Regions from separate parts of the Homo sapiens genome. Here regions 1, 2, 4 and 5 are each linked to region 3. Evidence: fine-mapped expression QTL. A gene starts in region 3. Each other region holds a variant in brackets. All regions are shown on one strand. Distances are between the middles of the regions. Region 1 overlaps NOL9 (nucleolar protein 9). Region 2 overlaps NOL9 (nucleolar protein 9). Region 3 holds the start of PLEKHG5 (pleckstrin homology and RhoGEF domain containing G5). Region 4 overlaps ESPN (espin). Region 5 has its middle 3.3 kb from the start of KCNAB2.

The links. PIP is the estimated chance that this variant, and not a neighbour inherited with it, causes the effect.
Region 1: its variant is fine-mapped to the expression of PLEKHG5 in whole blood (INTERVAL, PIP 0.96).
Region 2: its variant is fine-mapped to the expression of PLEKHG5 in follicular helper T cells (Schmiedel 2018, PIP 0.95).
Region 4: its variant is fine-mapped to the expression of PLEKHG5 in cerebellar hemisphere (GTEx, PIP 0.96).
Region 5: its variant is fine-mapped to the expression of PLEKHG5 in fibroblasts (GTEx, PIP 0.97).

The regions. Positions count from the first base shown.
Region 1 is chr1:6,538,737-6,543,736 of GRCh38, reverse strand. It overlaps NOL9 (nucleolar protein 9), which reads left to right. Exons shown (of 12, transcript NM_024654.5): 6 at 1,810-1,907. It also overlaps the pseudogene RNU6-731P. Among named protein-coding and RNA genes, the nearest start is that of NOL9, 13 kb to the left of the region's middle. The variant A/G (reference allele first, on the strand shown) is at 2,190.
Region 2 is chr1:6,520,010-6,525,009 of GRCh38, reverse strand. It overlaps NOL9 (nucleolar protein 9), which reads left to right. Exons shown (of 12, transcript NM_024654.5): 12 at 1-3,663. It also overlaps a transcript of PLEKHG5 not described here. Among named protein-coding and RNA genes, the nearest start is that of PLEKHG5, 31 kb to the right of the region's middle. RefSeq lists an enhancer at 4,427-4,721 and a silencer at 4,787-5,000. The variant C/T (reference allele first, on the strand shown) is at 2,265.
Region 3 is chr1:6,488,806-6,493,972 of GRCh38, reverse strand. It overlaps PLEKHG5 (pleckstrin homology and RhoGEF domain containing G5), which reads left to right and starts at 2,306. Exons shown (of 21, transcript NM_020631.6): 1 at 2,306-2,336. RefSeq lists silencers at 3,016-3,095, 3,156-3,245, 3,656-4,015.
Region 4 is chr1:6,460,698-6,465,864 of GRCh38, reverse strand. ESPN (espin) reads right to left here. Exons shown (of 13, transcript NM_031475.3): 13 at 4,921-5,167. It overlaps TNFRSF25 (TNF receptor superfamily member 25), which reads left to right. Exons shown (of 10, transcript NM_003790.3): 2 at 305-425; 3 at 643-777; 4 at 1,146-1,313; 5 at 1,412-1,490; 6 at 2,738-2,793; 7 at 2,895-3,002; 8 at 3,199-3,236; 9 at 3,691-3,871; 10 at 4,103-5,079. The coding sequence ends at 4,431. Among named protein-coding and RNA genes, the nearest start is that of TNFRSF25, 2.9 kb to the left of the region's middle. The variant A/G (reference allele first, on the strand shown) is at 2,495.
Region 5 is chr1:6,040,017-6,045,183 of GRCh38, reverse strand. It overlaps a transcript of KCNAB2 not described here. Among named protein-coding and RNA genes, the nearest start is that of KCNAB2, 3.3 kb to the left of the region's middle. The variant T/C (reference allele first, on the strand shown) is at 2,007.

The DNA.
Region 1 (5,000 bases), 50 kb before region 3:
CACAAAGTGCTGGGATTACAGATATAAGCCACCATGCCAGATCTGAAATTTTACCTTTACAACAACAACAGAGGTGGGTTATGGTGGCTTACATCTGCAGTCGCAGCACTTTGGGAGGCAAAAGTGGGAGGCTGGCTTGAGCCAAGGAGTTCGAGTCTACAGTGAGCTATGTCACACCATTGCACTCCAGCCTGGGCAACAGAGTGACACTGTGTCTCTAAATAAATAAATAAATAAATAAAGCCTGGGCGCAGTGGCTCACGCCTGTAATCCCAAGCCTTTGGGATGCTGAGGCGGGCAGATCACGAGGTCAGGAGATCGAGACCATCCTGGCTAACACGGGGAAACCCCGTCTCTACTAAAAATACAAAACATTAGCTGGGCGTGGTGGCAGGCACCTGTAGTCCCAGCTATTCGGGAGGCTGAGGCAGGAGAATGGCGTGAACCTGGGAGGAGGAGCTTGCAGTGAGCCGAGATGGTGCCGCTGCACTCCAGCGTGGGCGACAGAGCAAGACTCTGTCTCAAAAAAAAAAAAGAAAAAAAGGCTGGGCACCGTGGCTTCTGCCTGTAATCCCAGCACTTTGGGAAGCTGAGGTAGGAGGATTGCGTGAGCCCAGGAGTTTCGGACCAGCCTGGGCAACGTAATGAGACCCTGTCTCTACAAAAAATTTAGAAATTAGTCAGGCATGGTGGCATGTGCCTGTGGTCCCAGCTACTTGGGAGGCTAAGGAGGGAGTATTGCTTGAGCCCAGGAGGTCGAGGCTGCAGTGAGTTCTGATCACTGCACTCCAGCCTGGGTGACTCGGTGACACCCTGTCTCAAGAAAAAATAAACTTATATGAAAAATGGCTGAGTGTTAGCTCATGCCTGTAATCCCAGCACTTTGGGAGGCCGAGGCAGGTGGATCACTTGAGTTCAGGAGTTCAAGACCAGCCTGGCCAACATGGTGAAACCCTGTCTCTGCTAAAAATACAAAAATTAGCTGGGCACGGTGGCTCATGCCTGTAATCCCAGCACTTTGGGAGGCTGAGGCAGGCGGATCCCAAGGTCAGGAGATCGAGACCATCCTGGCTAACACTGTGAAACCCCGTCTCTACTAAAAATAGAAAAAATTAGCCGGGCGTGGTGGCACATGCCTGTAATCCCAGCTACTTGGGAGGCTGAGGCAGGAGAATTGCTCAAGCCCGGGAGACGGAGGTTATAGTGAGCCAAGATCGCGCCACTGCACTCCAACCTGGGCGACAGAGCAGGACTCCATCTCAAAAAAAAAATTCAGCTGGGCTCAGTGCCTCAGGCCTATAATCCCAGCACTTTGGGGGACCGAGGTGGGCAGATCACGAACGAGATCAGGAGATCGAGACCATCCTGGCTAACATGGTGAAACCCTGTCTCTACTAAAAATACAAAAATTAGCCGGGCATGGTGGTGGGTGCCTGTAGTCCCAGCTACTCCGGAGGCTGAGGCAGGAGAATGGCATGAACCCAGGAGGTGGAGCTTGCAGTGAGCCGAGATTGTGCACTGCAGCCCAGCCTGGGCAACAGCGTGAGACTCCATCGTAAAAAAAAAAAAAAAATCTGAAAGAGCAAGTTGTTATCCGTGTTACAAATGGACATTGTGACCATGCCTGCACTGCGTTTCTCTGGACTCGTTTTTAAACAGCGATTGTCATCTTGAGGCTTCACTTCTAAAGTGCTGTGTGTGGTGGATTATGCCTGCGTGTCACATGAAATCTTTACTGTGTGATTATCCTTTCTACTGAGTAAAGCTAGTTAGGATTTTCTTTCTTTTTTCTTTTTTAAAAATTTGCAGTCTTCCCTGCGTTGACTATTTGGAATGTGATCTGGGACAGACAGAATTTACCCCTCCTGGTTGCATTTCTTTGCTTAATATTACAGAACCAGTTCTGGGTATGTATTACATATTTCTCAAATGTCTTGGTTTTATGAAATTCATATGTGATGATGCTAACAAAAACTCAGAAATCGAAGAGTATAAAATATTAAAAGGGAACATGCGCCTACCAAACTCATGGTCTTTCCATAACTTGTTCCTCTAACCTCCAAAAAACAAACTATGGTGCTTTCTCATTTTAGGAAATGGAACTGCTACTCATTTTGTTTTATGAAATTAGTTGGGTATGGTGGCAAAAATTATTTTGTTTTATGTAAATTAGAAACACATGTTTCCCT[A/G]ATTTCAACATCTTATGTACAACTATCGAGACTAAGAAATTAATACTGAATCAATACTGTTAATCAGGCTGCCTGTGGTGGCTCACACTTGTAATCCCAGCACTTGGGGAGGCTGAGGCTGGTGCATCACCTGAGGTAGGGAGTTCGAGACAAGCCTGGCCAACATGGGGAAACCCCATCTCTACTACAAATACAAAAATTAGCTGGGCATGGTGGTGCACGCCTGTAGTCCCAGCTCCTCGGGAGGCTGAAGCAGGAGAATTGCTTGACCGGGAGACGGAAGTTGCAATGAGCTGAGGTCAAGCCACTGACTCCAGCCTGGGCGGCAGAGCAAGTCTCCATCTCAAAACCCAAAAAAACAAAAATTAGCTGGGTTTGGTGGCACGTGCCTATAGTCCCAGCTACTTGGGACGCCGAGGCAGGAGAATCGCATGAACCCAGGGGTGGAGGTTGCAGTGAGCCAAGATCATTCCACTGCACTCCAACCTGGGCAACAGAGTGAGATTCTATCTCAAAAAAAAAAAAAAAAAAAAAAACGCTGTTAACCAGTCTACAGATTTTATTGAAAATTCACCAGTTATCCACAGTTCTACATCACTTAAAAAAAATAATATGTTATCCTTGTGCGGGGCCCATTGCCAGTCTTCTCTGTATCATTCCAGTTTTTTAGTATATGTGCTGCTGGAGTAAGTACCACCTTGCTTGCTTTTTTTTTTTTAAGATGGAGTCTTGCTCTGTCACCTAGGCAGGCTAGAGTGCAGTGGTGTGATCTGTGCTCACTGTAACCCCCGCCTCCTGAGTTCGAGCTATTCTCCTGTATCAGCCTCCTGAGTAGCTGTGACTGCAGGCGCACGCCACCATGCCCAGCTAATTTTTGTATTTTTAGTAGAGACAGCGTTTCACCATGTTGGCCAGGCTGGTCTCGAACTCCTGACCTCAGGTCATCTACTCACCTCTGACTCCCAAGTTCTGGGATTGTAGGCATGAGCCACTGTGCCTGGCCACAACTTTTTTGTTGTGTTTGCAACGTGGTGAGACCCTGTCTCTACAAAAAATTTAAAAATTAGTCGGGTGTGGTTTTTTGTCATCCCAAAATGAAAACTGTACTCATTAAAGAATAACTCTCGGCTGGGCTTGGTGGCTCATGCCTGTAATCCCAGCACTTTGGGAGACCAAGGCGGGTGGATCACGAGGTTAGGAGATCGAGACCATCCTGGCTAACATGGTGAAACCCCGTCTCTACTAAAAATACAAAAAATTAGCCAGGCGTAGTGGCGGGCGCCTGTAGTCCCAGCTACTTGGGAGGCTGAGGCAGGAGAATGGCATGAACCCAGGAGGCGGAGCTTGCAGTGAGCTGAGCTCTCACCACTGCACTCCAGCCTGGGCGACAGAGCAAGACTCTGTCTCAAAAAAAAAAAAAAAAGAATAACTCTCCTTGGGAGGCTGAGGCAGGAGAATCGCTTGAACCCGGGAGGGAGAGGTTGCGGTGAGCCGAGATCTCACCACTGCACTCCAGTCTGGGCAGCAAGAGCAAAACTCTGTCTCAAAAAAAAGAGTAACTCCCTTAACTCCCTCTTGTCCTCCTCTTGTCCTCTTTCCTAGCCCCTAGAGACTTCACCTCTGTTCTACTTTTTGTCCCTATGAATTTGGCTATTCTCATGTAAGTGGAGTCACACAATACTTATCCTTTGTCTGGCTTATTTCACTCAGCATAGTATTGTCAAAATCCATCCATGTTGTAGCATGTATCAAAATTTAATTCCTGGCCAGGTGCCATGGCTCACACCTGTAATCCCAGCACTTTGGGAGGCCAAGGCCGGCAGATTGCTTGAGCCTGGGAGTTTGAGACCAGGGTAGCATGGTGAAACCCAGTCCCTATTAAAAAAAATACAAAAGTTAGCTGGGCTTGGTGGTCCATGCCTATAGTCCCAGATATTTGGGAGTCTGAGGCAGGAGGATCACTTGAACCTGGGAGGTAGAGGCTGCAGTGAGCTGAAATTGCACCATTACACTCCAGCCTGGGTGACAAACAGTGAGATTCTGCCTCAATAAATAATAATAATAATAATTCTTTTTGATGGCTGGATGTTATTCAATTGTATGTGTATATCACATTTAGTTTATCCATTCAGCTGTTAAGGGACACTTGGCTTCTTTCCACATTTTGGCTTTCGTGAATAATCCTGCTATGAACATGGGTATTCAAATATCTCCTCCATATCCTGCTTTCAGTTCTTTCAGGTGTATACCGAGGAGTGGAATTGCTGGGTCTTATGGTAGTTCTGTGTTTAATGTTTTGAGAACTGCCAAACTGTTTTTCACAGTAGCTGCATTTTACATTCCCAGCAGCAATGCACAAGAGTTCTGATTTCTCCGTATCCTCACCAATGCTTATTTTGATTATAGCTGTCTGAGTTTGTGTGAAGTAATGTCTCATGTTGGTTTTCATTTACATTCCCTTAAATGACTAATGATGTTGAGCATGTACTTATTGGCCATTTGTATATCTTCTTTGGAAAAATGTCTGTTCCAGTCCTTGAATATTGCTTGTGTGTTTTTTTTGTTCGTTTGTTTCTGAGACAGAGTCTTGCTCTTTCGCCCAGGCTGAGGTGCAGTGGCGTGATCTCAGCTCACTACAGCCTCCACCTCCCGGGTTCAAGCAGTTCTCCTGCCTCAGCCTCCCAAGTAGCTGGAACTACACCACGCCTGGCTAATTTTTGTATTTTTAGTAGAGATAGGGTTTCACCACATTGGCCAGGCTGGTCTCGAACTCCTGGCCTCAGGCGATCCACCTGCCTCAGCATCCCAAAA
Region 2 (5,000 bases), 31 kb before region 3:
TCCAGCACTTTGGGAGGCCAAGGCAGGCGGTTCACGAGGTCAGGAGATTGAGACCATCCTGGCTAACACAGTGAAACTCCGTCTCTACTAAAAATACAAAAAACTAGCTGGGCGTGGTGGTGGGCGCCTATAGTCCCAGCTACTCAGGAGGCTGAGGCAGGAGAATGGCATGAACCCAGGAGGCGGAGCTTGCAGTGAGCCGAGGTCACGCCACTGCACTCCAGCCTGGGCAACAAGAGCAAGACTCCATCTCAAAAAAAAAAAATAATAATCTGGAAAACCTCTTCTGGGGGCTCTTATAAAAGTAGATTTGTCCAAATTGACTTCTGATCTGAGGCCAGAGACAACCACAGGGCAGAGCTGGAGACTGGGCTGTTTTGAAGGAAGAAGGACTGGCAGACCAGCTCTTGGGAAAGCTCCATTATTGCCTGTGGGAGGCTGGACCTGAACTTGCACCTATGAACAACCCTGCCATTTAGAGCTTTTTCCTGGGGGTGCCGGCGGCTGGTGACCAGACTGCCATTCTCCACGTTCTCCCTGGTGCTTCCGACTCTGTCCTCTAGGTTGGAAGTGGTTTGTGTAAACGGGTGATGGGACCAGGTCACATCATTTCTGCATTTAAGACAGCAGGATACTTCCTGGGGCTGAGGTTCAAACTGGTATTGTGACCACCGCTTTGACAGAATTCCATCTTCCCAGCATGATCACATTGTAAGACTATTAGGATGTGTGGGTTTTAACACTTATATACACTTATACAACTGTTGGTTATCATTGTCTTTAGTATTTTACAGTGGCCCCTCAGCACCTCTTAGACCCAACAGCAAAGGACTTAAAATAAGCACAGGAAACCTTGCTATGGTGATTAGTTTTGATACCTTTGAGACAATTGAGTCTAGCTTCTTAGTTGCCCCTTATTTATGTTGAAATCTGGCTCATTCATATGATGTTTTACTGTGCTGGCCTTGTAAAGAATTTTAAGACAATCCATCACCATCAATGTTTTGCCTTTCTCCACTTTCGTGTATCTTACAGTTATACTCACTGGAGGTCATTTGCAGCAAGGCTCTGGAAGAATGAAACTGGTGCCCTGTAATTGCATTTGCATTCAATCTAGGTTTGCCTTCAGGCTTTAAATGCGGCCTGTATGAAGGTCAAGTCTTTTTCTTCAGTCCCTATCAGTAAAGAAAAATCGTTGCCTCTAGAGGGAGCTATCAGCTGTGGGTCAGGTGGCCGTACTGGGGCTAGAGTTGGCCCAGGAAGCTGTACAGGGTTTAGGGAAGGAGGTTCGGAGACAGGGAGCCAAGGCCTCTGTCAGGTCTAGCTTGTGCCGGTCAGACCTGCAGCAGCACCATTCTCCAGGATGACAATTCATCCCATTATTGATGGCAGTGGCCTTTTTATCCTTTTTTTTTTTTTTTTTTTTTTTTGAGATGGAGTTTCGCTCTTGTTGCCCAGGCTGGAGTGCAGTGGCGCAATCTGGGCTCACTGCCACCTCCGCCTCCCGGGTTCAAGTGATTCTCTTGCCTCAACCTCCCGAGTAGCTGGGATTACAGGCATGCGCCACCATGCCTGGCTGATTTTCTATTTTTAGTAGAGAAGGGGTTTCACCATGTTGGCCAGGCTGGTTTTGAACTCCTGTCCTCAGGTGATCCACCTGCCTTGGCCTCCCAAAGTGTTGGGATTACAGGCATGAGCCACCGCACCCGGCTGGTGGCAGTGGCTTTAAGGGCATTTAGAAGAAGGACAAGATTGGACTTTTTATCATTTCCACAGTCTGTTATGGGTCAGATTAGGTAGTAAGGAGTTCTCCATTGGAGCTATTCTTTTTTTTTTTTCTTTTTTTTTGAGACAGAGTCTCGCTCTGTCACCCAGGCTGGGGTGCAGTGGCACGACCTTGGCTCACTACAGCCTCTCCCCTCCCGGGTTCAAGTGATTCTTCTGCCCCAGCCTCCCAAGTAGCTGGGATTACAGGTGAGCGCCACCATGCCTGGCTAATTTTTATATTTTTAGTAGAGATAGGGTTTCACCGTATTGGCTAGGCTGGTCTCGATCTCCTGACCTTGTGATCCGCTTGCCTCGGCCTCCCAAAGTGCTGAAGCAATTTCTTTTTTTTTTTTTTTTTTGAGACAGAGTCTAGCTCTGTCGCCCAGGCTGGGGTGCAGTGGAGTGATCTCGGCTCACTGCAACTTCCGCCTCCCAGGTTTAAGCGATTCTCCTGCCTCAGCCTCCTGAGTAGCTGGGATTACAGGCGTATGCCACCA[C/T]GCCCAGCTAATTTTTGTATTTTTAGTAGAGACAGGGTTTCACCATGTTGGTCAGGCTGGTCTCGAACTCCTGACCTCGTGATCCGCCCGCCTTGGCCTCCGAAAGTGCTGGGATTACAGGCGTGAGCCACTGCGCCTGGCCTGAAGCTATTCTTTACAAAAGCTCTTAGTTTTTGTTTGTTTGTTTGTTTTTTTCTTTTGCGACGGACTCTCTGTCGCCAAGGCTGGAGTGCAGTGGCCTGATCTCAGGTCACTGCAACCTCTGCCTCCTGGGTTCAAGCGATTCTCCTGCTTCAGCCTCCCAAGTAGCTGGGATTACAGGCGCCTGCCACCACACCCAGCTAATTTTTGTATTTTTAGTAGAGATGGCGTTTCACTTTATTGGTCAGGCTGGTCTCGAACTTCCAACCTCAGGGGATCCGCCTGCCTTGGCCTCCCAAGGTGTTGGGATTACAGGCATAAGACACTGTGCCTGGGCCTCTTAGTAATTTTTGTATGTAATTTTCAAAGTATCCGGGATTACAGGCGCCCGCCACTACACTAGCTAATTTTTTTTGTATTTTTAGTAGAGATGGGGTTTTACTATGTTGGCTAGGCTGGTCTCGAGCTCCTGACCTCGTGATCCGTCCACCTTGGCCTCCCAAAGTGCTGGGATTACAGGCGTGAGCCACCGCGCCCGGCCTAGGTCATTTGTTTTTGGGTTTGGATGGCAAGATCATGGATAAGACAGCAGGCTTTGATTATAGAGCTCTGAGTTCAAATCCTGGCTCTACCACTTGTCAGTGGTGTAACTTGGAGGAAGATGCTTAGCCTGAGCCTGTTTTATGTTTTGAAGATTGGGTAATTGTCCTTCCTTCAGTGTTCCTGGGTGAGGAGTAAGTGAAGTCATGTCTATAAGAGATGTAGCACAGTCTCCGGCATGTAGAAACGGTCAGTAACTCCTAGTGTGTAGCTAGCCTCTGATGAGATGGTAAACTCAGGAGGCTGGCACCACGGCTGTGCTACTCACGGTCATGCTGGAGGGATGCAGAAACTAAATGAATCCACAGCTACTTACTCATCTTGCCTCTGGCAGGTTCACCTTAAAATTGTTGCTACCAAGCTTCCTGTGGTCAAAGAGCCCTTGAGGAAGCAAGCTCCACGGCCACCATAGATAACCCATTCCTGAAAGTTTTTCATAAACCCCCACTTGTTGCTTTTAAAATTTTATAAGCAGCTTACACATGTAGAAAATGATCCTCCAGCCCACCACCACATAGTAATCACTGACACTGTGAGGTGTCTCAGCTGGGGTTCTGCTGTGTGTGTGTGTATTTTACAAAATATGTATGGTTTCTGTTCAGCTCTTTTCAGTTAACAGATGAACTTTTGTATCATTAAATATTTTTGAAAACATGAATTTAGTTGTGTAATTTTATGTAGATAGGTCATTTTATTCCAGGTAATCACTTAAATGCTTAGAAGAAACTATAGTGAAAAAACACTGGGAGGAAAAAAAATGTTGAAAGGCGGTTAATGAAGTGTGGAGACTCCAGCAAATGCTTGTGATGTGTTTGTTTGTTTGTTTTGTTGTGCCCTTTTTTTTCTTTTTGAGACAGAGTCTCTTTTGCCCAGGCTGGAGTGCGATGGTGCAATCTCGGCTCACTGCAATTTCCACCTCCCAGATTCAAGCAATTCTCCTGCCTCAGCTTCCCCAGTAGCTGGGACGACAGGCAGGCACCACCACACCCAGCTCACTTTTGTATTTTTACTAGAGAGGGGGTTTCACCATATTGGCCAGGCTGGTCTTAAACTGACCTCAGGTGTTCCACCCGCCTCGGCCTCCCAAAGTGCTGGGATTACAGGCATGAGCCACTGTGCCTGGCCTGTTTTGTTGTTGTTGTTTTTAACCATTGAAGTATTGAGTGCAGTGGGAGTTTATTTTTTCAGTATTTTTAATTTTTATTTGTCACTGACTTGAAGCTCAAGTGGGAGTTTAATTTTCCTGTCTTGGTTCATATGTAAGTAAAGAGGGGATGTTGCATTCTTTCTGGACTGTCTTTGGGAGTGTATTAGAAGGAAACAGGGCTTTGCTCCTGGAAGAGTTCAAGTTTTAAAAAACTAAAATGACTCATGCCTGTAATCCCAGCACCTTGGAAGGCTGAGGCAGGAGGATCACTTGAGGCCAAGAGTTTGAGATCAGCCTGGTCAACATAGTGAGACACCATCTACTTAAAAGAAAAACAAAAAAAAAACTGAAACAAACCCCCACCTAGTGCTGTGCCGATAAAACTGCCTCTCGGCAGCGAGGACTCAGCCCTTGTCTTCCCACACCTCATAGGGTTGGGCCTAGCAGAGAGAGATTGGCTGACAAGCCCAGCCTGAACAGTGGCTAAAGTAAATATGGGGGCCATCTATGCAGTAAGTGGGGAAGCCTACGTGATGTTCAGGGCCTTTTCAGAAAGACCTTGCTAAGTTAAGTATTCCCAAGGCTTTGCCAGGAAGAGCGGTAGCCGCCGAGTTGGGGGCAGCAGGTCCAGTCTGCAGTGCCAGGAGCTGAGCAAGCAAAGTCTTGCGAATCAGCAGAGTTCAGCTGGGCAGACATGTGCTGGGCTGGGAAGCCAAGGGTAGCTATGGTAACCGGCCCTGAGGCGGCTGCGGTGCTCTGCAGACTGGCTTGGGTTTTTCTAATGTTTTGAGGCTCACTTGATCTCCCGCTGTGACCAGCCCCTCTCTGCCTGGCAGGGGAAAGCCACC
Region 3 (5,167 bases):
CTCAAAAATAACAGGCCAGGCGCAGGGGCTCATGCCTGTAATCCCAGCACTTTGGGAGGCCAAGGTGGGCAGATCACTTGAGGTCAGGAGTTCGAGACTAGTCTGGGCAACATGGTGAAACCCCATCTCTACCAAAAATATAAAAAATAATTAGCCGGACATGGTGGCACACACCTGTAATCCCAGCTACTTAGGAGGCTGAGGCAGAAGAATCGCTTGGACCCTGGAGAAGGAGGTTGCAGTGAGCTGAGATCACGCAATTGCACTCCAGCCTGGGCAACAGAGCGAGACTCTGTCTCAAAAAACACCCAATAATAATAATAATAACAATTATTGCTGACCGAACATGTTTACATGCCAGGCGGGGCGTTAGGCCCTCCTGCTTGTCTCAGTGAAGCTTCTTGAGACCCTCAGGAGAACAGCGTTATTCTTATGACCACATGACTTGTAAGGAAACGGAGGCCCAGAGAGGTAGAGGAACTTGCCCACATCACACAGCATGATCGTCAGAGCCTGGCCTGCGTGAGGCTTGTCTGATCAAGAGCCCTATTCTTACTCTCCAGGATGTGACTAGCGTTTTGAAGGAGATGACTTCATTTATTCATTTACCAGACCAGCTCTGAGCATCTGTCGGTGCCAGGCCCAGTTCTAGGCCCAGGAGATCTCCAGAGAACAAAGGGGATGCCCTCCTGGAGGTGACATTCTAGCTGTGCTGGGAGGAAGGAAGGGAAGTGACCCTGGCTGGCCAAACTTCCCCCCAGGCTGCCCTGGCAAAGGACCAATTTCAGGCAGGGCTGGACCCTTCGGCTTCTGGGCCCACCCTTGATGTTTTATTTGAGGCTCTCCTGGGTGCTGGAGCTTCTGAGATGAATTTGCCATCTGTCCCCTACCTCCTGCCCCTGGAGTTCCCACTGGGAGGAGGGCTAACCAGGATGGGCTTCCTGGAGGCAACTGGAGTCCTGAGGATTAAAGAGGTACTGAGATGGAGGACAGCTGAGTGAGCAGGGGGGGACATTGGGGGCTATAAGGGGCAAGCGAGGCCAGGGGGCACAGGGAGAAGGGGACGGGAGGAGGGGGAGGCAGGCTGCACTAGGAGCACCTGCATGTCCAGATGAGGGGTCTGGACTGTGTGTCATGGAGACCCCAGGAGAGAAATGGCCCCTCCCCAGGATGAAGATATGTAGAGCAGTCCACACCTCTGAGCTCCAGGATCAAACCTACTTTTTTCCAGCTGTGCGACCCTGGGGAAGTCACTACACTTCTCTGAACCCCAGGTTCCTCATCTGGAAAATAACCCGGCAGCGAGGATTAAAAGAGGCCCATATATAACATGCTTAGCATAGAGCCTAGCACAGCGTAGGTGTGCAAGGTGTCCTGGGAGTGGGGGTAACAAAGTCACCTCTAGACTTTGGGTGTGCCCTCCGTACCTGCCCTGGGATCTGAGACCTCCCCAGGCTCCATCCCAGCTTCTTGCACACAGGTGGAGCTGTGAGTTTGGGGAGATGGAGAAAGGCCGGGAGATCAAGGCAGACTAATGATATTGTGGGTTCCCCCTGCCCTCCTGTGAGGTGGCCACGGGACAGTGTGTGGACTCCCCAGCTCCTTGCTGGGCTCCACTGGGCACTGTTCGAGGTCTAGTCAGGGCGTCCCAGGTCACAAGGGGGCATGGAGGAGGACACTTGTGGCCCTGGGCCACAGGGGACATTGGGCACCACATGTGAGGGTGTTTATCATGGAGGAGGTAGTGATTCCAGCAGCCGCCATTGATCCAGCACGTACTGTATGCCAGGCCCTGCCTTAGCGCCTGGCACAGAAACCTCATCTGGCCGCCTCCCCCGCTGCGGTGGGGCCTACCCCATCTCCGTTTCCTAGAGAGGGCCCTGCAGAGTGGCGAGGTAAAATGACTTGCCAAGCAAGGCAAGATCAGGACTCAAACCAGGCCTCTCTGTCAGAGCCTCCCATTTCCTCAGAACTCTCAGGAGGAAAGGGAGGTGAATTTTTCTGCACAGCTCCCAAAGGCCTTGACAGGGAGGTGGGGTTCAGCACACTACAGGAAAGAGTTTCCAGCAGCTGGAGCTATCCCCGAAGTGGAGGTAGTGAGCACCCCATCACTAGACATATGCAAGAAGAGACAGAAAGGGAAGCGTAGAGGGGATTGCAGTGTGGAGTGGAGGTTGGATGGGAGGACTTCAGAGTTCCCTTGCAGCTTAACAATGGCCTGTGAGGTGGCAGGGATGAGTCAGGGTATGCGTGTGTGGAGGGAGGGGTGGTGAGATGAAGACCAGGGAGAGGAAAGGGTGGACCTGAGGCCCCCATGGAGAAGGGACGGGCAGGATGTGAGTAATGGGAGAGGCAATCACCTATTCTCCTGGGCAATGCTTTGGGGGTGAGCAGCGGCAGACCAGGATGCCCCAGGGAATGGCCAGGTTTGGGCCATCTCTGGAAGTGACTGGTCCCCGGAGAGAGGTGGTGGGGCTATCTGCAGCTGAAGAAACGGGCAGGGCCAGAGAAACAATGCAAGGGGACTCCTGGGTTTTGGCTAAGTAGTTTTGGGGGAGCAGGTGAAGACGTGGGGATCCCTGGCCCAGCCAGGAGCTGCCCTAGTATAGGCCCAGCCCCAAGGGTTGTGTGGGGCAGTCTGGAGGTTTTGGCCTGGGAAGGGGTCGGGGGAAGGCTGTATAAAAAGCTTGAAAGTGCGGAACAGGTTGGTGGACCTGAACTCCACCTCCTCGAGTGGGCCCCCTGTATCCACACCCTTCCCAGTCCTGAGCCCAGAGTTATTCTAAACTCCCGCTGCTGGGAGAGGGGAACTGGGAACCACTAAATGGCAGAACAGCACCCTTTTCCGGCCATATCACCTGGGCCAGAAAAAAAAAAAAGAGGGGGCCCAGAGAAAAGCGGGCTGTTTCTGGGGCACCGCGGAGGCCGCAGATCAGAATCCAGCTTTTTACAATAGAGCGGAAGCGAACCTGGCTCAGGGCGATTCCGGGGCGGGCTAGGCCTGCGGGTCTCTCTGCCTGGTCCCCCGGGGCTTTTCTGTCGCGCGGAGGCTTCCTGTCGCGGGCCCTGGTCCCCCCTAGCCCCCTTCCGGGATGGGCGAGCTCCCGTCTTCAAGCCCAAGTTAATGACCAGGGACTTTGAACTTTTTGGAGATCTGCAAAGGGCTGGCCCCTCGGGGACAGTGACGCCCCCCACCCCCTCCCCTGAGCCCGGATCCTGGATTACCCCAAGCCACCGCCCGGCCTCCAGCCACCTCCCTGGCTCCGGCGCGGGGCCCTTCCTGGGACCCCTCCTCTCCCCGGTCCCAGCCGGGCGGCGCCGTTGGTACATCCCGGCCGGTCCAGGTGGTAGCGCCCGCGCGGCTACCGTAATTCCCCTACGTCCCGCGCCCCAGTTTGCGCTGAGTCGACTGAGCCCGTCCCGCGGCTCCCGTCCCCCTCTCCCCGCGCGCCCCATGAGGCTTTGGCAGTCTCGGCCCGAGCCTTAGAGCCTTAGACACCGGGGAGGAGACCCTGGTCCTGTTCCTAGGTGAGTCGCGGGGAAGTGGGAGCTGCGCTCCGGACGGGGGGTGGGACTAGGCGCCAGGACCCCCCTAAACCGATGGACAGAACCCGGATTCGAGATTCCCACGTAGTGCCAGGCCTGTGGGTGGGTACAGGGTCCTCACCAGCTGTATCTCCATTTACGTGAGGGTGGAATGGGTTCAAGCTCCCGCCCCCATCACAGTGTCTCTAGGGTGGGTCGGCTCGGAGATAGGGCCGTGAGGAGTCTATGGGACCCTGGCCCCGGTATGGGGGGTATTGGCGGGGCAGGGGGATCCTGGAGGGGCCCGGGCGCGCGGCGTGGCTGGGAGGCTCAGCCGATCCTCCCCATCTGGCCAGTCCCGGAGTCGGTCCCAGGCGGAAAAGCCCTCTCGAGGCCGGCAGGGGGCGCCAGAGGCTGCGCCTCGGGCAGTCTGAGCAGACCCAGGCACCCACTTAGGGGTGGGGGATGCGGGAGACCCGTGAATCCGGGGAGGCCCTGGCCTGCCTTGGTGGAAGTCTGGGAAATGGAGGCCAAGAGGTCCCCTGCAGATTCCTTAGTAACTCCTCAAGTTGAGGGAGCTCGGGGGTATTTTACCATTCTCCTGCCCTTTAGCCGGGGTCCGGGCACACACTAGGACCTGGCAGCCATCCCCAGATACTGAATTCTATGCCCTCTTGGCACAGGTGGGCAAATTGAGGCCCAGTAGGGGAAGGGTGGGGGAACGTAGGCTCCAGACCAGGTCTTCTGAAGCCCAGGCAGGTGCCCTCTTTCCCCCGCTCCCTACCAAGGAGGCTTCTAAGTTGCACCGGGGAAGGGCTTGCTAGTCCAGGTGCTCCGAAGACACACGCTGGGGTCTGGGGCTGGGAACTGCAGAGGCTGGGCAGGAGGGGATGTTCACAGACTGCAGCCCCTCCCTCTTTCTCTAGCACTGGGTCCCAGCCTTGGGCATACTAGCCAGGACCGCTCCCTGGGGAGGAAGGGGCCTTCCTGGCTTCCAGGGCCCGTGCGGTGGGCTTAGCCTGGGGAGAGGTTTTCTGTGTCCCTGCCATCTGCCCGGCACAGGGCAGGGCCTTAGGTCAGGCTCTGACTCCAGGTGAGCCTCAGAACCCAAGGGGTGATGGGTGAGGCCTGGGCCTAGGGGAAAGGAGGGTGGGTAGGCCGGGTGGAGCGTAGAGAGCCGCCTGGCAAAGCCACCCCGCCCTGGCTGGCCTGCCCATGCATGCAGTCTCCACCCCTGGATTTCTAAGGTGTTGGGTGGGGCCTTGGGACTAGCAGGCTCCCAGGGGAGCTTAGCCTTGGTGGGAATTCCTGGCAAGGACATCCCTCCAGCCAGAGAGCTCGGACTCCTGGTTCCAGGCCCGTCTGCTGTCGGCAGAGCCTGGAGCTGGCCCCAGACCTGCGTCCTTTCCTGGACAGGGAAGTCCCTCTCCCACCCAGACCAGGCTGGGGCCCCAGCTCGTTGTGGGGCAGGGATGCCTGGGGGATCCCTGGTTTCCCATCTGCTTTTCTGGGGCTGGGGGAGGTGATACTGAGGGAGAACAGCCGGGTGCGGGGGTCCTGCCTTGGAGACTCCATTATTCATCAGCCTCCGCATCTGGTTTCTGGGTATCAGTTTCAACAAGCCGGCCCTGACTCACAAGCC
Region 4 (5,167 bases), 28 kb after region 3:
CAGAGCATTATCAGTGTCCCTCCCCCAACAGAAAGCATGGGTGGGGGTGGGGGCGCTGCTGGATTCCTGCTCTGGTGGAGGGGAAACTTGTGAGGGGCTGGTAAGCGCCCCCTCCGAAGCCTGGTGTGTGCGCGGGGGGAAGGAAGTTAGTTTCCTCTCCACCCATGGGCACCCCTTCTGCCCGGGGCCTGGGAAGTGGGCTGCTCTGTGGGCAAATGCTGGGGCCTCTGAAATGGAGGAGACGCAGCAGGGAGAGGCCCCACGTGGGCAGCTGCGCTGAGAGTCAGCAGCACCTGTCCCCCAGGCGCTCCTCCTGGTGCTGCTGGGGGCCCGGGCCCAGGGCGGCACTCGTAGCCCCAGGTGTGACTGTGCCGGTGACTTCCACAAGAAGATTGGTCTGTTTTGTTGCAGAGGCTGCCCAGCGGGTAAGTGGCCACAGGGGTGGGAGAGGCATGGGGCAGGCAGGGCTGGAGAGGTGGCGGGCAGGCCCGGGAGGTAAGAGGAGGCTGGCAGGGGAGGTAGGGGTAGGCTGACAGAGAAGTAGGGAGCTGGAGAGAAAGAGGGAGGGAGGGCAGGGTGGGAAGCAGGTCGGGGGTTGCTGGGCAGCCCCTCTGCCTGCCTGACCCCTGCCTGGTTCCACAGGGCACTACCTGAAGGCCCCTTGCACGGAGCCCTGCGGCAACTCCACCTGCCTTGTGTGTCCCCAAGACACCTTCTTGGCCTGGGAGAACCACCATAATTCTGAATGTGCCCGCTGCCAGGCCTGTGATGAGCAGGGTGAGGGGCTTCTCAGTGCTTGGCAGGGAGTTCCTAAGGACAGGCCTTTCTGAAGGAAGTGGCTGGCTCGGGCCCAAACTTGGGGTGTGAGGGTCCTGCACCCACCCTTGCCAGAACCCTCCACCCTGATCCTCCTTCAGGGTGCCCTTGCCCCTTCTCTCTTCCTGGTGACCTTCCCATCTCTCCATGTGCCTTGGCCTCTGGTCGGCCTTAATCTCTGAGCTTCTCTCTTTTTTAGGGTAGCCCTGTACCTGTCTGTCTTTCGCCTATTTCTGTCTCCATTATCTTGGGATAATGCCTCTGCCTCTCCATGGGAGCCTTTGGCCCTGACTAACTCTCCACTCCCCATCTCCCTGCACCCCCACCAGCCTCCCAGGTGGCGCTGGAGAACTGTTCAGCAGTGGCCGACACCCGCTGTGGCTGTAAGCCAGGCTGGTTTGTGGAGTGCCAGGTCAGCCAATGTGTCAGCAGTTCACCCTTCTACTGCCAACCATGCCTAGACTGCGGGGCCCTGCACCGCCACACACGGCTACTCTGTGAGTACCCCCACCCAGGGCTCTCTACTCCCAGACCCCCTTCTCCCTGCCTGACCCACTCCTGTCCCATGGTGACGCATGCCTCTCCTGGATTGCAGGTTCCCGCAGAGATACTGACTGTGGGACCTGCCTGCCTGGCTTCTATGAACATGGCGATGGCTGCGTGTCCTGCCCCACGTAATTCCTAGCTGTCGTGGGATGGAGGGAAGGGCGGCTGGGAGCAGAGCAGGGGCCTGGGGTGGGGCAGGTGCTGCTGGTTCAGGAATAGGAAGAGGGGATAGGGAGGAGGGAGCCTTGGCCCTGTGATGGGTGGGCCCCACTTCAGGCAAACTTAGATGGCAAAAGAGCAATCTGGATCCGCCTTAGCCAGATACATAAGGGTATTTGCCTTCACTTTCAGCCAGCATTCCCCCCAGCGATCCTAGCCAGATATTACAGATGATTTGTCACTTACACAGAGAGTCACATTGATATAGCTTTAAAACTTGGGCTGAAGGAGGTTGAGGCTGCAGTGAGCTATGATCGTGCCACTGCACTTCAGCCTGGGCAACAGAGCGAGACCTATTAAATAAATAAATAAATATTAAATCTATTAAATATTAAATATTAAATCTATTAAATAAATAAATACAAAGGGCTGAGAGTCAGGACTGTGCTGCTAGTTCTCTAGGGGATCTTGGGCAAGTGCAGAGAATTCGCGTCTCTGATGTGTGGTGTCCCTTTCTCAACATGGGATGTTAGCAGCTAATTCACAGGCCTTTGATCAGAGGTAAGGGACTTTCTGTAGCTATTCAAGTCTTTTTTTTTTTTTTTTTTTTTTTTTTTTGAGATGGAGACTTGCTCTGTCACCCAGGCTGGAGTGCAGTGGCACGATCTTGGCTCACTACAACCTCTGCTGCCTGGGTTCAAGTGATTCTCCTGCCTCAGCCTCCCAAGTAGCTGGGACTACAGGAGCCCACCACCACCCCCGGCTAATTTTTTGTATTTTTAGTAGAGACGGGGTTTCACCGTGTTAGCCAAGATGGTCTTGATCACCTGACCTCGTGATCCACCCGCCTTGGCCTCCCAAAGTGCTGGGATTACAGGCATGAGCCACCGCGCCCGGCCTCCATTCAAGTCTTTATTGAATATCTGCTATGTTCTACACACTGTTCTAGGTGCTGGGGATGCAACAGGGGACA[A/G]AATAGGCAAAATCCCTGTCCTTTTGGGGTTGACATTCTAGTGACTCTTCATGTAGTCTAGAAGAAGCTCAGTGAATAGTGTCTGTGGTTGTTACCAGGGACACAATGACAGGAACATTCTTGGGTAGAGTGAGAGGCCTGGGGAGGGAAGGGTCTCTAGGATGGAGCAGATGCTGGGCAGTCTTAGGGAGCCCCTCCTGGCATGCACCCCCTCATCCCTCAGGCCACCCCCGTCCCTTGCAGGAGCACCCTGGGGAGCTGTCCAGAGCGCTGTGCCGCTGTCTGTGGCTGGAGGCAGAGTAGGTGGTGTGCTGGGAATGCGAGTGGGAGAACTGGGATGGACCGAGGGGAGGCGGGTGAGGAGGGGGGCAACCACCCAACACCCACCAGCTGCTTTCAGTGTTCTGGGTCCAGGTGCTCCTGGCTGGCCTTGTGGTCCCCCTCCTGCTTGGGGCCACCCTGACCTACACATACCGCCACTGCTGGCCTCACAAGCCCCTGGTTACTGGTAAGTACACACACCCACACACGCACCCAGAAGCCTGGGGTCAGGATGGGTAGCCCAGAGTCTACTCAACCCTGATACAGAAGGGGAAACTGAGGCAGGGAGTGTGGGGTGCAGAGGAACCCTAGAGGAGCTGTACCAGCACCCAGGTCCAGGAGGCTTGCCTGGTGGCTGACCGCAATCTCTCTGTGTCTGTCAGCAGATGAAGCTGGGATGGAGGCTCTGACCCCACCACCGGTAAGAACCTCACTGTGTGATTCTGGGCTGCCTTCTGGAGCTGGAAGATCAAGCCTTACTATGATCCCTGGAGCTTGGCACGCGGCCAGCACCGGGTAGCCCTAGTGGACAGAGGTGTTGGGAGCAGAGTCATCAGTGGATGAGACCAGCACAGTGCCTGCCCTCAAGGGGTGCTCAGTCAGCTGGAGTTCAGATTCGTACACAGGAGCTAACAGTTCAATGGAAGGAGAGCCCCATGGTGCTGGGGGACAAGAGGAAGGAGGCGGGGGCAGGGGACTCAAGGCAGAAGCAAGAGTTCTGCTGGGCTACAGTGAGAGCAGGGCCAACTGTGGGAGGTGTCATTGCGGGGGTGTCTGCTGACTGAACCAGGGACTGTCCCCTCCTGGAGAGGCACTGCGGGTAAGGGGCCTTACTTGGCAAGCAGGGCTGACCTGGGGCCCCTCTTGGCTTCCAGGCCACCCATCTGTCACCCTTGGACAGCGCCCACACCCTTCTAGCACCTCCTGACAGCAGTGAGAAGATCTGCACCGTCCAGTTGGTGGGTAACAGCTGGACCCCTGGCTACCCCGAGACCCAGGAGGCGCTCTGCCCGCAGGTGACATGGTCCTGGGACCAGTTGCCCAGCAGAGCTCTTGGTAAGGGACATCAGTGGCCTGAGGCCTTGACCCCATTCTCCTGTCTGCGGTGGGAAGTTGTGGTTTCACAACGTGTTCCCTTTCTGCCCCCTAACTGACGGAGTCCGCCCTATGCCCTGACCCACCGGATCCAGCGGGCTTCAGCCCTGGGGTACCCGCACGAACGCCCCTGACTCTGCCTCCCGACCGCGGCCCACGTACCCCAATTGGCTCTCTCTGGCCCTGCCCCAGGCCCCGCTGCTGCGCCCACACTCTCGCCAGAGTCCCCAGCCGGCTCGCCAGCCATGATGCTGCAGCCGGGCCCGCAGCTCTACGACGTGATGGACGCGGTCCCAGCGCGGCGCTGGAAGGAGTTCGTGCGCACGCTGGGGCTGCGCGAGGCAGAGATCGAAGCCGTGGAGGTGGAGATCGGCCGCTTCCGAGACCAGCAGTACGAGATGCTCAAGCGCTGGCGCCAGCAGCAGCCCGCGGGCCTCGGAGCCGTTTACGCGGCCCTGGAGCGCATGGGGCTGGACGGCTGCGTGGAAGACTTGCGCAGCCGCCTGCAGCGCGGCCCGTGACACGGCGCCCACTTGCCACCTAGGCGCTCTGGTGGCCCTTGCAGAAGCCCTAAGTACGGTTACTTATGCGTGTAGACATTTTATGTCACTTATTAAGCCGCTGGCACGGCCCTGCGTAGCAGCACCAGCCGGCCCCACCCCTGCTCGCCCCTATCGCTCCAGCCAAGGCGAAGAAGCACGAACGAATGTCGAGAGGGGGTGAAGACATTTCTCAACTTCTCGGCCGGAGTTTGGCTGAGATCGCGGTATTAAATCTGTGAAAGAAAACAAAACAAAACAAAAACGGCTTCTTGGCGTTTCTGCGGGGCTGGGGTGTTAAGTGGACTGGACTTTTCTCGAGGGATTCGAAGGGGACGGGAATCTTGTCACCCCGGGATCTGGCACCCATGGTGGAGTCCAGTGTGGCCTTAGCTCCCAAGCCTGCCCCTCCCGAGTCCACTCTGGCTCAATTACCCCGAGAAGGAGAGAGCAAGTCGCGGCCACAGCGAGTGAGTGAACCGGAGCCCAGATGAGAGCGCTTTAATGGGGCTGCGAGGTGGCGGAGACAGGGTCGGGATGGGGTGCAGCAGTTGGAGACACAGGGTCAGGGCCCCTCATCCTCTATTCACTCCACCGGGGCAGTGAAAGGGTCCCGGCAGCGAGTGGGTCTGGCTGGGGACGGGGCGCAGACTTGAGGGAGGTGGGGCCAGAGGTGGGGTCCCGGGGGCCACAAGTGCGGCCCGGCCAGACAGGCAGT
Region 5 (5,167 bases), 450 kb after region 3:
AAGGTGGGGGACAGGAAATCAGTGCCCCAGTCGCAGTGTGGAAGGTAAATGAAGTGGGAGGCTGGGAGAGCACGTAGAGTCTGGAGGTGCCTGGCTGCGGGTGACTAGCTGCGAAGGCCTTGGCAATTGAAATGGTTTGTCCCCAAAGGCCCAAGCCCACTCTGTCAGATCCCCACATGTCGCCCTGGTCGGGGGGCCTGCGCCTCACTACTGGGTGGTAGCTGCAGCCTAACATGCTCCGAATGAGGCCCTCTCCTTCCCTGGGTCCACTGCTCCTCTCTGTCCCTTTCTGTCTCAGCACCTGCCCATCAGTGGCCAAGCCCTGTGGACGTGGCTTCTGACGTCCTTTTTTCAGGCCCTGCACCCCTTCATTCTCTCTCTGTGCAGTTCCTGGAGCTCAGCCGTCCTGCACCTTTCCTGGGCACTGTCTGGTCTCCTTGCATTAGCCTCTCTCTTCCCTGTCTTACTCCCTGCTACCAGGCTTCCTTCCTAGAGCAGATCTCTGACCCCTGCCCTGCTCAAACACCATAGATGGCTCCCCAGTGCCCTCTGAGTGCATCTGTGCCCCATCGCTAGGCATTCGAGGCCCCCCACCAACATCCACCTCTACAGCCAGCCTCTCTTTATTCTCCATCATGTCCCTGATGGCCCAGGCTGGGTAACTGTCACTTCCTGTTCTCTGTGCACACCTCTGAGCTGTGGCTCAGGCTGTTGTATCTACTGGAATATGCTTCCCAGCCTCTGCGTTGAATCCTGCCCAGCCTTCAAGGACCAGATCCAAGCCCCTGCTGCCTTCTCCGTGAAGTCTTCTTGGCTCTCAGCTGGCTGTGGCCCCTCCTTCCTTGGACCCCAAATGCTCTTTGGGCTTCTCCTGTGACGTGCTCTGCCTTCTGGAGATCATCAGGGCTATTTGAGACCTGGGGTACATGGAAGTATTGCTCCCAATCCTTCACCCCTCTCTGTACCCATGCCCTTTGCCATGTGACTTTATAGCTCCTCCCACTGGTGGGGGCAATATATTTCCAGCCCCTTGACTGTGGGCTGGTTCCTGAGACTTACTTTGGCCAAAAGCACGTGAGCAGAGGTGACAGCGCTCTGACCCCAACCATAGGCCGTAAGAGACCCTGCATGTTTCTGCTTTTCCTCTGGTACTTTTGCCATGGGAAGGACATGCCTGGGGTAGGCCCCAGTTAAGCATGGGAAGATGGAGGACATGGGGATCCAACTTGCAGCTTGGAGACAAACCCAGCCAAGCCAGCTTAGACGAGCTGCCTGGTCAACCCGCAGACACGGGAGCAAGGAAGAGATGCTGATTGCTGCGTGGCACTGAGTTTTGGAGTTGTTTGTTATGCAGCACTTGGTGGACAGCTGATTGGCACAGTGTCCTATGCCAATTCCTTGCCTGGGAGCTGCATGGGGGCAGGGCACATGCCTTGAACGCCTCTGCCCTGTGAGAGGGCCAGGCCTAAGTAACTGAAAGAACCATCCAATAGCCATGTTTAGTGGTATGCTTGGTGTGATGAGGGTGCCCTACTAGGAGTGGCCCCCAGCCTGTTAACAAACAAAGACCCTAGCCCTTAGAGGTCATCTCCAGAGCCCCCACAAGAGACACCCAAGTGACCCCCTGGAGATCCAACGGGTAGGATGGCCAGAGCCTGTGGGCACCAGAATTGGGGCTGAGAGCCTAGAGGGTAAGCTTCAGAGCTTCCCTTGGGGCCAGGAAGGCCACCTGGAAATGAAGGTTCTTAAGCACAGGGATCCCGGCGGGGGGGACAACATGTTGAGCCTGTGGGGTTTTGAGGGCCTTGAGTGGGCTGGAAGGCTCTCACTTGGTCACTGGATAATTTACTTGGCCCCTCCTAGGGGCAGGCCCTTGGAGCTGGATGGTCTGTACCTGTGGGCAGCCCTTTTGAGCTGGCAGGTCTGCACCTGGGATTTTCCTGCCTGCTCATCAGACCTCACCCCTTCCCTTCTGAGGACTGAGGCTGCTCCCGGCTCTCTGAGGA[T/C]GCAGTTCAGGTACATGTTTTGTTTCACTGATGAAATCCCCTGGGATGAGCGGCATATGTTTGTTAGGATCTGTTATACCATGTGTACATACATCACAATACAAACATTTCATCCAGGGAAAGCATTTGCAAGCCGGAGTTCAGATTTAACTATCTTAAGCAAAATCTTATCTACCAAAATTTCAGTAGGATCTAAGAGTTGGCCATGTCTTCAGAGCTCCCTGTAAGGAGCAGGACCTCCGAGGAGGCACTGAAGGCGTGGCACAGATCACTCTGAGCATCTAGGTCCACGGTCCCCATCAGAGGTGCTATGGCTGGCAAACGGGGGGGGGGGTGGGGAGTGGGGGCGCGGGGAGAGAAAAGCTACATGGAAATACATTGCCACCTCCATGACCACTGCCTGGCACATTGGCAACGATCCCCAAAGCACTGTTACCAGATGTCCGGGTCCGAATAGAGAGACCTCCCGGCCTGACCGCCAAGATGCAGCAATGCATACCAGGGACCTGCTGCCAGAAGCCGTGCCAATTCCCCAAACAGTCCCAAGGCATGGGGAGGCTGCTGCCCATGGGCTCCAGGCAGCCCTGACATTTTACTTCCTAGGGTTGGAGGCTGCACCAAGAACATGCATCCCCTGCCTTACAGGTGAGGGAGAGGCAGCCCAGAGAGAGGAACGGGTCTCCCCAAGAGCACCCTGCAGGGCCCTAAGCCTGGCATCTTGATGTCACATCCTGCTGGGGCACAGTCTCTCGCCAGGTGCCCGGTTTGTTAATTCACCAACAGAAAAACATATCAGAAAGATGTCACTGATCCACGTCGTATCAGTACTGCACACCCCCAAGCAGGCATTAACCTTCAATGAGCCTGAGGAGCTCTGTGAGTTCCAGATCAGGTCAAACCCACAGGCAAAGGGGGAACGGATGGGCTCGCCACGTCCTGTACTCTGATAATGGAAGCAGGGCAAGCTGGTGACCACAGGAAGACATCTCCCTCACTGCCTGATGAGTGAAGCTTTAACGGTAGATTTGGCTGAGAGCTTGGCAGTCATCAAAAGCCCATTTGCTCAAATCAAAGCAAACTTCTGGCAGACCAACACATACAATTAACCTGACTTCACATTTTCCATCAGGACATTGCACAGCATCCTGTGGGTAGGCACAGAGGGTGATGAGCAGAGCCTGGGGGTCTCGGGGGCTTTGGCTTCAGAGAATACACCAGCACACCCTGCTCGGCAAGGGTGCAGTCCTCCCACCCGCTCCCTGGCCTTCGGCTCGCTGGGTTTTAGGGAGAATGAAGACTCATTACCTGTAAAACTGGAGCTGTCTTTTGGGACTCCCATACCGAGTACTTCGGACAGCAATGGAGAAAAGAGAAAAAGGAGAAAGGGAGAGAAGAGAGAGAGTCCACAGTTGGCATCAACCCCAGCAGGTGCAGGTCAGAAAGAACCACCAATGTCCCATGCCCCCGGGCCCCCACCAGTCGCCTGCTCAGGGCAGTCTCTGAGGAAGCGCAGCCGGTGCCAAGTGCTCTGCAGCAGCGCCACCCGGTGGCCACGGGGCAGAGACCCGGAGCCAGTTTCCTGGACACCAAGGGCTCCTTCCATGCCAGGCCCTGTTTTCCGTGGTGAACCTCCGAGTGAGGGTTGGTTTGGATTGAATGTGCTTCAGGACTTGCTTTGCAATATGCTTGTGGGCAATGGCTGAAAACCCTCCAACCCAGACGTGCAGAGCACCCGCGTGCTGGCAAACCCGCACCTGCCCGCCTGGCTCTTCTTAGGACAGACACTGCCTTTCCCTGTGGCTGTCACAGACACGGGCTCTGGCTCAGGCCCCAGTGATTATCCGGAAAGGTCTGGCTTCCCAAGACTGATGGGCTGCTGGGGTACTGCCTGTGCCTGCGTCTTTCGTGGGTTCTATGCTCTGTCCCCAGAGGCTCAGCTCTCACTGAACGCCCTCCGCAGCTGTCGCTGATGTTCAGCGCTGTTTATGGTGCAGACAGAAACACCCAGGGCTGCAAGCGGAAGTGAGTTCCACAAGGAGGGGGTCAGGATGCCCCAGGAGCATTTGGCCGCCCCCACTCCCTCCAGTGTTGGGAAACCGGCAGACGTGGTTCCCCAAAGGCCTGCAAGGTCGTCATCCTCGCTCAGGAGAAACTGGCAGGGCCACAGGGGCTGCGATGTATAAAGTGGGAGGAACAGGATGCCGGGGTTGGCCGTGCACTCACTGTCCGGCCGCTCTGTTAACCTCAAACGAGATATTTCGGAAGGGTCAGGGACAAGAAAGGAGTCTACTCTGGCTCAAACGCCCTGGAAAAGTTTTGGTTTTTCTTTCCCACTTGGGTTTTTAAAGCCCCTGCTCCTTTCTTGGAGAAAACGCTCACCAGCGTGCACCTCAAAACCCCGTGGAAGGCAGAAGCCTGTGGGCCCTGCTTGGGCCCTTCCACCTCCAGAGGGGAGGACAGTGGCCTTGGGAACCCGTCCTCGAAGCAGGACTGACCCTGGGAGGGGGCCTGGGTGAGGGGGCAGGGGGTCACCTGTAGATCATCCCGGGGGAGCCCGTCTGCCGCAGCGAGAGCCGAGCCGGGGAGCCCGTCGTTGATTCTGGATACATGGAGCCAGCCTCACTTATCCAGACTTGCTCGGTTTTTTACAGTGGGAAAATTCTGGAAGAAAAGCAAAATAAGGGAGGGGAAGAGGGTGGTGGTTAAAAAAGATCAACCAGGTTTGGCCGGGAGACTCTGGGATCACAAAGGCTGAGGAGGCTGTCTGGGTTCAGGGCATCGGGGAGCCCCTCAGCAGAGAGACAGACAGACAGACGACAGACAGACACACGGCAGGCAGGCAGGTCCACGGGCTCAGGAGGGGCTGGAGAGCAGGTGACAACTGTGAGAAGGGTTTCCACACTCCATCACTCCACACTCCCACCTTATATGTCGTGGAGGTCCTTCCACACCACCCCAACTGTTGTTCTGAAACCGTAGGTGTAGTTTCTGCTGCCCACATGGTGCAGAAGAGACCGCCCAGGGGGCATCTGTGTACTTTCTGAGCTCCTGACTGCACTGCTGTCCCCCAGGGTCATCGCTGACACTGTCCCTTGCCCTGACTCCAGCCCAGTGCAGCTTCCTGGTGCTGCCATTGAGCTCCTAAGTCAGGCAGCTTCTCA